Linked DNA regions of Homo sapiens: region 2 is linked to region 1. The links come from fine-mapping of genetic effects on gene expression. Tissue or cell type: sigmoid colon. Region 1 holds a variant in brackets; the other region holds the start of a gene. All regions are shown on one strand. Distances are between the middles of the regions.

Evidence for each region. PIP is the estimated chance that this variant, and not a neighbour inherited with it, causes the effect.
Region 2: DCTN1 starts here. The variant in region 1 is the best candidate, but not a certain one, in a credible set for the expression of DCTN1 in sigmoid colon (GTEx, PIP 0.55).

The regions. Positions count from the first base shown.
Region 1 is chr2:74,621,867-74,626,263 of GRCh38, reverse strand. The region is part of intron 2 of M1AP (meiosis 1 associated protein); the gene reads left to right. Among named protein-coding and RNA genes, the nearest start is that of M1AP, 24 kb to the left of the region's middle. The variant T/C (reference allele first, on the strand shown) is at 2,475.
Region 2 is chr2:74,378,806-74,383,202 of GRCh38, reverse strand. DCTN1 (dynactin subunit 1) reads left to right here and starts at 2,892. Exons shown (of 32, transcript NM_004082.5): 1 at 2,892-3,198. The coding sequence starts at 3,166. RefSeq lists an enhancer at 2,580-3,091.

The DNA.
Region 1 (4,397 bases):
AAAAAACTGAAATATAGCTTAACATATTAAACTATGATAATAGATTACCTATAAGATATAAGGGAATTTATATGGTACCCTAGGGCTAAGGGAGAGATCCTAAGGAAAGTCAAACTTGAAAGGGGGACTCCCTTCCCGAGGCTGGGGTTCACACCAAATTGCAGAATGTGTATTTGTAACCCACTGGATGGCAGAGTTCACTAGTTTGTCAAGGCTAAAGTTGGTCTGCAGTTCCTGGGAAAGCAGGAAGCTACTCTCCAGTGATAGGTGAGCTACAGTGGTGGCTGGGCTTACAGGCATGCAGAGAGAGTGTAGGCAGGATGCCCAGAATACGTATTCTCCATGTTGGAAGAGCAGTAGCATTGAGATGGCCACAGGAGACAAACTTCTCACGGGGAGGAACAAGTAAGCAAAGGGAATTAGGCATTAGTACAGGCAGGAGGCCTGAATCATATGGTGTCCATGTTGAAAGGGCTGCAGAAAGGCGATTACTAGGCCAGGCAGGGCTATGAAGTCACTGAAAGACTATGAATTCTGAATGCATGGATGGGTCACCATTAGGTGTCCCTATACCCCACAGCTGACCCACAGTATGCTGCATGTAACAATAGGAGAGCCTCTTTATGTCCCTCCAGTGCCCTTTACTAAGAAAACTTAACATTGTGCTCACTGTAAAAGAGAAATGCTTAAAGGAATTTATCACAGAGCATGTACTGAAGGATGAATTTGGAGTTGAGAGGCAATAAATTAATAATTAATACACAGACCATGGGGAGAAAATAATAGGAATGGCTTTTCTAAGCATAATATAAAACCAAAAAATCTAAAAATAAAAGATTAATAATATATAAAAACAGAAAATGTATGCTTGGAAAAGAACACACATGCAAATTCTAAAGATAAATAGCTATGAGGAAAAATATTTGCTTCTCATATCATGTAGAGTTAATTTTCTACATACATAGAAAACTCCTACAACTCAGTAAGAAAAAAACATTCAATAACTCAGTAGAAAATGAGGATGGATATACACAGTCAGTTTTCAGAAAAGAAAATATAAATGACATTGAGACATGAAAATACATCAACCTCATTCATAGTAAGAGAAACCCAAATATGCAGAGATGTCACTTTCCACCTATATGATTGGCAAAAATTTTCTGTGACACATTTTCATGAGAATTTGAAGAAATAAGCATGCTTATATGCCATTTGTCAGTGTATAAATCGACATTATAGAGGGCAATTTGGTGACAGTATCACAATTTACATATCTTTTAAAGTAGCAAATTCACTTCTAGGACCTTATCCTACATATATATTTACACATGTACAAAAATAACTTAAGTACAAGATTATTCATTTTAGCACTGTTTGCAGTAACAAAAGATTGGAAACAAACTGAATGTCTGTAAATAGGGGATTGGTTACATAAAATCACGGTTCATCCATTAATGGAATACTCTATAATGATGTGAAATGATTGCTCAAATACAATAATCAACAAAAGCAAGATACAGAAAAGTATTGCCATCACTTCTATTTAGGGAAGAAAAATGATAGAATTACATATCCTTTTGAATTTCAAACCCTATGAATGTATGTATTCAAAACACATAAATATTAAAAATACATTTATGCTGATAAAATACCAATTTATATATAGGGAGTCTTTGTAAGATTTGATTTTTTATAAAGGGAATTCTGATTTTCTTTTTAAATATTTTTAATCCCCTCCCTAAACTGCATTCTGGTTTCTTGACCTGACCTCCAATGAAACATCAATCTAAGTTATCCTAACTGCCTAGGGCCATATTATCTATCTATAAGATAACCCAAAAAAGTTCATGTATGAAAGCCCAGAAATAGAATTCTTGAAGATTTTGTCAAGCCAAGGCATTTACATGATGTCCAACAAATATTAGCCATACTCAAGTGTTCTAGGTCAATAATATATGTCTACTGATTCCTGGAGTTTACCCAATTATTACCAATTTTTTATCCCTTATTTCTCTAACTTGACTTTCTGATAACCAACTAGAATGTGCCACAGCTTTACAGCCTCTGAAATCCTCTTCACCTTTACTTTAATGCTGGCTTATGCTGATCTAGCACTAGCCTGCTTATGCCTTTGTGACCAATCCCTCCAACAATGATATGAGTGTCAGCCTATTTCAAGACAACTCTATAGATAGATGATACACAGAGAAAAGACTTAAATTTTACATAAATGAGATAATACTATGCCTGCTGATTCCATTATCTAATTTTTTTTAATTAACAGTATATTGTAGGCCAGGTGTGGTGGCTCACGCCTATAATCCCAACACTTCGGGAGGCAAGTTGGGAGGATCGCTTGAGCGCATGAGTTCGAGACCAGCCTGGGCAACATAGCAAGACCTTGTCTCTACTAAAATTTTAAAAATTAGCCAGGTGTGGTGGTTCATGCCTGTAGTCCCAGCTACTCCAGAGGC[T/C]AAGGAGAGAGAATCGCTTGAGCCTGGGAGTTTGAGGCTGCAGTGAATCATGATCACGCCACTGTACTCCAGCCTGGGTGACAGAGCGAGACCCTGTCTCAAAAAAAATTAATTAGTTTAATTAAATAAAACATAAGTTAAACCAGTTTCAACCTTAGCTGCACATTAGATTTGCCTGAGGAAGTTTTAAAATATATCAGTGCGTGGAGCCCACCTGATAAAATTTAAATGTCTGAGGGTATGTCTCAATGCCTCAAACTCTCTCTCTCTCTTTTTTTTTTTTTTTATAGACAGAGTCTGGCTCTGTTACTCAGTCTAGAGTACAGTGGCACAATCTCAGCTTACTGTAACCTCCACCTCCTGGGCTCAAGCCATTCTCCCACCTCAAGTCCCAAGTAGCTGGAACTACAGGCACGGGTCACCATGCCTGGCTAATTTTTATATTTTTTTTAGAGACGGGGTTTCACTATGTTGCACAGGCTGGTCTTGAACTCTTGAGCTCAAGCAGTCTGTCCACCTCGGCCTCCCATAGTGCTGGGATTACAGGCGTGAGCCACTGCACCCAGCCCTTAAACATTATTTTACTCTCAATTATTACTGTTTTTAGGTATGCATATTAGAGATGACATACAGTGGAATTTTTCAATCTAGTCCAATAATTTGTTTTTTAGCTGGTATATTTTAGGAAGTAAGTTTGTATTTATTGTAATTACTGACCTTATTATTATTAAGATTATTCTGATTATCTTACTTGGTGTTTACTATTTGTCCTGCCTTTTCTTTGCTTGCTTCTCCCATTTACTATCTGATTTTGGGTTTGTTTTTTTTTTTTCCACTCTATTTTTTTTTAAAGTGTATAATCTATTTATTTTCTTTTAGGGGTTGCCCTAAATTAATTGGTATCTCTACCCTTCACTAAACAATACCTTAGAATGCTTTAACTCCGATCATCTCCCTCTCATCGTGCATATTTTTGCCCCTGTATTTTACCCCCAAATTAGACATTACTGCTATTGTTTTATACAGCTAATATTTATTTCATTTTACTCATATATTTACCAATTTATTTGCTTACCCTTCCTTCTTGCATATCAGACCATTTCTCTGTGATCAGTTACCCTCTCTCTTCCTTGAATTATATCCTTTAAATCAGCACCATTTACTAGATATGTAATGTGAGCCACACATATAATACAAATTTTTCTATTAGCCACCTTTAAAAATAGAAAAAAAAAAAAAAAAAAAAGCAGGCAATGGCCGGGCGCGGTGGCTCACGCCTGTAATCCCAACACTTTGGGAGGCCAAGGCGGGCAGATCACCTGTCAGGAATTTGAGACCAGCCTGCCCAACATGGCGAAACCCCGTCTCTACTAAAAATACAAAAAAAGCCAGGCATGGTGGCAGCCACCTATAATCCCAGCTACTCAGGAGGCTGAGGCAGGATAATCGCTTGAACTCGGGAGGCGGGGTTGCAGTGAGCCAAGATCGTGCCACTGCACTCCAGCCTGGGCAACAAGAGCAAAACTCTGTCTCAAAAAATAAAATAAAAAATAAACAGGCAAAACAAATTTTAATATTTTATTTGTCCTGACATATCCAAAATATCATTTCAGTATGTAATCAATATAAAAATTTATTGAATTTTTTATATTGTCTTTTTTTTTAATTTTGAGATGGAGTCCCACTGTGTGGCCCAGGCTGGAGTGCAGTGGCATGATCTCAGCTCACTGCATCCTCTGCCTCCCAGGTCTAAGTGATTCTTATGCCTCAGTCTCCCGAGTAGCTGGGATTACAGGTGTGCACCACCACACCCGGCTCATTTTTGTATTTTTTTTTTTTTTTTTAGTAGATGTGGGGTTTCACCATGTTGGCCAGGCTGGTCTCGAACTCCTGACCTCAAGTGATCCACCCACCTCAGCCTCC
Region 2 (4,397 bases), 240 kb after region 1:
ATTCGCTAGTCAAGCAAAGTTATTTCTGCCTCTGTTCATACTGTGTTCACAAGTTACAGGGCTTTGTAGGCCTTTCCACATATTTTTTATTTTTATTTTATTTATTTATTTTTTTTTTTTTGAGACGGAGTCTCGCTCTGTCGCCCAGGCGGGACTGCGGACTGCAGTGGCGCAATCTCGGCTCACTGCAAGCTCCGCTTCCCGGGTTCACGCCATTCTCCTGCCTCAGCCTCCCGAGTAGCTGGGACTACAGGCGCCCGCCACCGCGCCCGGCTAATTTTTTTTTGTATTTTTAGTAGAGACAGGGTTTCACCTTGTTAGCCAGGATGGTCTCGATCTCCTGACCTCATGATCCACCCGCCTCGGCCTCCCAAAGTGCTGGGATTACAGGCGTGAGCCACCGCGCCCGGCCTCCACATATTTTTTAAAATTCCCATAATTCAAGGCATGCTTAGGTACTCCCTTTCTTTCTAGCTCACCTCTCTCCTGTCTATAATTTCTTATATTTATTGTGTAGATGTATATACCATTTAGTATCATGTCAGGTAATTCTTTGCAGTTCTATAATTTCTGTACTTTTTACAAGGTGCTTTTTTTTTTTTTTTTTTGAGTCTCAGTCTGTCGCCCTGGCTGGAGTGCAGTGGTGCGACCTTGGCTCACTGCAACCTTCACCTCCCGGCTTCAAGCGATTCTCATGCCTATAGTCTCTCAAGTAGCTAGGATTATAGGTATGCGCCACCACACCCAGCTCATTTTTGTATTTTTAGTAGAGATAGGGTTTCACCATGTCAGCCAGGCTGGTCTTGAACTCCTGGTCTCAAGTGAGCCACCGGCCTCAGCCTCTCAAAGTGTTGGGATTACAGGCATGAGCCACCACACCTGGCCTACAAGGTACCTGTATATGCTTTAGCTTTTTTGAACCTCATGATACTGACGTAGATATGGCAGATATTATTTTCATTTCATAGGAAAATAAACAGATTCCAAGAAATTAGGGGACTATTGATACCTATGTGGTTAGTGAGTTGTGAGGCTATTTTTAGATCTGAGCTCTTTTGAATTTTTTAAGGCAGTGTGGCCTACAGGAAGAGCAGGGCCTTGGAAGCCTAGATATGTCTGTGGTAATGGTGAGGGGTAGTAGAAAGCACAGAGGGCTCTGGGTCAGGTTGTTTCCAGTTTTGGCTCTACTCCTCACAGTCTGTGTGTCTTCAGGGAAGTTGCTCAGTTCTCAAAGACTCAGTTGCCTTGTCAGCATCATCCCTGGCCAACCTCTCAATGGGGTTATTGTAATGTCTATATATGATGACATTGTTCTTAGCTAACTTTTATTTAGCACTTATTAAATACCAGGCGGTGTCCTGGATGCTTTGTTTGGATTATCTCAGCTAATCCTCACGATACCTCTCTGAGATATGTTCTTTGTTACTTCCCTATGACGGATGAGGAAATTGAGGCATAGAGATGTTAAGTAACTAGACCAAGTTTATGTAGCTACCAAGTGATAAAGCCAGGAAAGTAGCCTGAGTCTAGAACCAGTACTCAACCATGGTTCTATAAAATGTCTTTTTTTAAGGTGTCCTATAGACTGTAAAGTGCTCCGAACATGTGAGGTCCAGGCTGCAAGGATGTGCCTGGCCCTGCCCACCTGTGTAATGGCGAATAGGGAAAGGAGGGGGCGACATGGAGATTTTGCAGGGAGGAGAGAGATTATTTCCTAGGGGGTCTGGCCAGGACTGAAGATTTGGAATTGTGTTTTGGGGCCATATTTCTGAATGTTGGCTGTCATTCTCCTGTTGGGCTACCTGGCCTATCTTAAGAGGGTAGAGCGGGGTAAAGTCACTGTTCTGCCAGTGAAGTAAGCCCAGTGCAGAAAAGACAGGCGTCCCTAGGCCCAAGGGAACTAGATCCATACCATACTCAGTGGAGCCATAGGTCAGACCCCAGGCCAACCTTGTTGGCTGTGTAGGGGCAGGGACCCTGGTCTTTTGGTTTCTAGCCCATGATAGATGGGCCAGTGAATGAAAGCAGTGTGGTAACATAGTCCCTTGGAGACCTCTCATTAGAATGCATAATCTCATTAAATTAAACAATTCTAATTATAAAAGTAATACATGGTTACTGAAGAATTTTTGTGAAATACAAAAGCGTAGAAAATAAACCATTTCATTGGGTCTGAGATGCTAGGAGGCAAGGCCAAGAGTACAAGGGGCAGATGACTGAGGTGGACTGGGCCTTGTGCTACAAGAAGAAAGAAGGGCTCTCTGCTTTTGACTACTGCCTTTAGTAATCCAGTTGAGTCTGATACTCTTGTGTTTTACAACCTGGCCCCTTATAACAACCATAAAGGGTGAAGGGTGACTATGGCAACCTTTGCCAGCCTTGTGGGAGGGGGCTAGGGTACTTGGCTTGCTTTGCTATGTGTGTGAAGTTGCCTTCATTACTGCCCTTCTCTTGCTGCCTCCTGGGCAGGGCCTGCCTCCTCTGGCTCAGTGTGAGATTGAAATCCAGGCCCTACTCACATGAATTTGGACCCTGAGTCCAGAGTTTAGAGAGGGGAGGGAGAGAGAAGAGCACCAGAAAGGTAGATGAGAGACCCTTATTTTGGCTGTGTGGAGGCTCTAGGCAGCTGATCGCTTTGAAGTGTCACTTGATGCTTATGGGCCTGCTGAGGCCTTACATCCTGGGGGAGAGGGGAACAGTGATGGTGAGTGGGTACAGACTAGGAGGACGTGTCAAGACTGCTTCCAGCCCTAGGACAGTGTATTCAAGAGTTGAGTGCTGAGGGTCTGTGGCGTATGCCCAGCCCTTAGTTTCTGGCCCACGTGAAGCAGGGGGGCACTAGGACCCAGAGGCTAGCACGGTTCCTGACAAGTCTAGAGCAGCACTAGCGCAGAGTGAGACTCATCAGCTGGCAAGCAGGATTCTGTGTCTCTGGGTTCAGGAATCCTCAGGCAGCAGAGGGGACTTGCTCCTCAGCCCCCATCACTGCCCCCACCCCTACCCGTGTAGGCCACCGAGTGAGGCCCATGGACTGGGGAGGGCTGTGCCTGACGACTCCTGTGTCCCTCTATGAGGGCCCAGCGCCCTGACCCTCCTGCCTAGGTTTCTACCTTTTCTCTCTGTCTTTGGCCAGCTGGGGGAGGGGGTAGAGGCCGGGTGAGCAACATGGCACAGAGCAAGAGGCACGTGTACAGCCGGGTAAGTGGCCCTAATCTGGGATGGCCCTGGAGGGCTGCTGGGGAAGGCCTGGCTGCCTGTGGACATCATTGCTGTGGGGGCTGGGGAGATAGGCTGGAGCTCAGCTGAGGGCACTCAGACTGTGTTTTCTAAGGAGCCCTCGAAGCCCTGGTGGTGTAAGGCTGGACAGGCTTCCCTTTACAGAGTTGATCCCTAAATGGGGACTAGCAAGGCCTGACCTCTGACTCTAATTGGCCCTCATACCAGGGGCTCCTGAGGGGGTCCAGACTATCCTGGGGACTCAGAATGGGGATGATGGCTCAGAGAGGTCTTACAGTGAAGCCTTTCTTAAGAGCTGCTTTGTTATTTGTTACTTGCTTTCTTTCTCTTCTGAGATAGAATCTGTAGCTACTGTTGTGGCCCCCTGGTTCTGAGAGGCTTATTGGGGTTGGAAAGTGGGGGAGTCTCTGACTTTGGGTTCAGCCTTTTATATCACTGGCAATTCCTTTTATTGTCAGGTCCATGAGAGCCATCCTGCTGTTCCAGGTGTGATTTGGGGTCCTGGAGCCTCTGGGAACTACATCCTCACCTTCCTGGATGAGCTGTTTGGGGAAGGGAATTAGGCAGTGATAGGCTGGGAGGTGTCCTGGCTCTTCCCTGGCTCTGCCAGGGCTCCCTTCTGAAGCTATTATAAATGAGAGTATCAGAAGGGTCTCCCATAGAGTCTTTAGGATGATGGTATCACTTCATCATGCCTCATTCATCTGTTTGCTGCAAGGCCCCTGGTTCATGGAGTTGCTGTTGCTAAAAATGACCTAAGTGTGATTTTCTTCTAAACCATGGGCCTATTTGGGACCTAATTTTCTATTGTGTTCAGTCATCATGGGTGTGCCGAAGCTAAGAGCTGCCCAAGGACAGTGTCTTAGTCTGTTGTTTTGCCTTGCCCATCTGTGGAGTGATAAACCATTCATTTGGACCACTGAGCAGAGTCTTGGGGACAGAGCGAGGGGTAGATCCACCCAATTTACTTGGCCTGTGTTTTCCTTTTTATAGCAACATAGCATGGAGAAGAATCTCCAGAGCTTGGGGATAGAGAGTTGACCAAACAAGACTCAGGCCAGGTAGAAGGGGAGTTGAATGGTTGAATGGGCTGTGGTGAAGCATCTGGGGTTTCATGGTGGGTTTGTGGATGGGGGTGGGAGGAGTCAGATCAGGAAGGA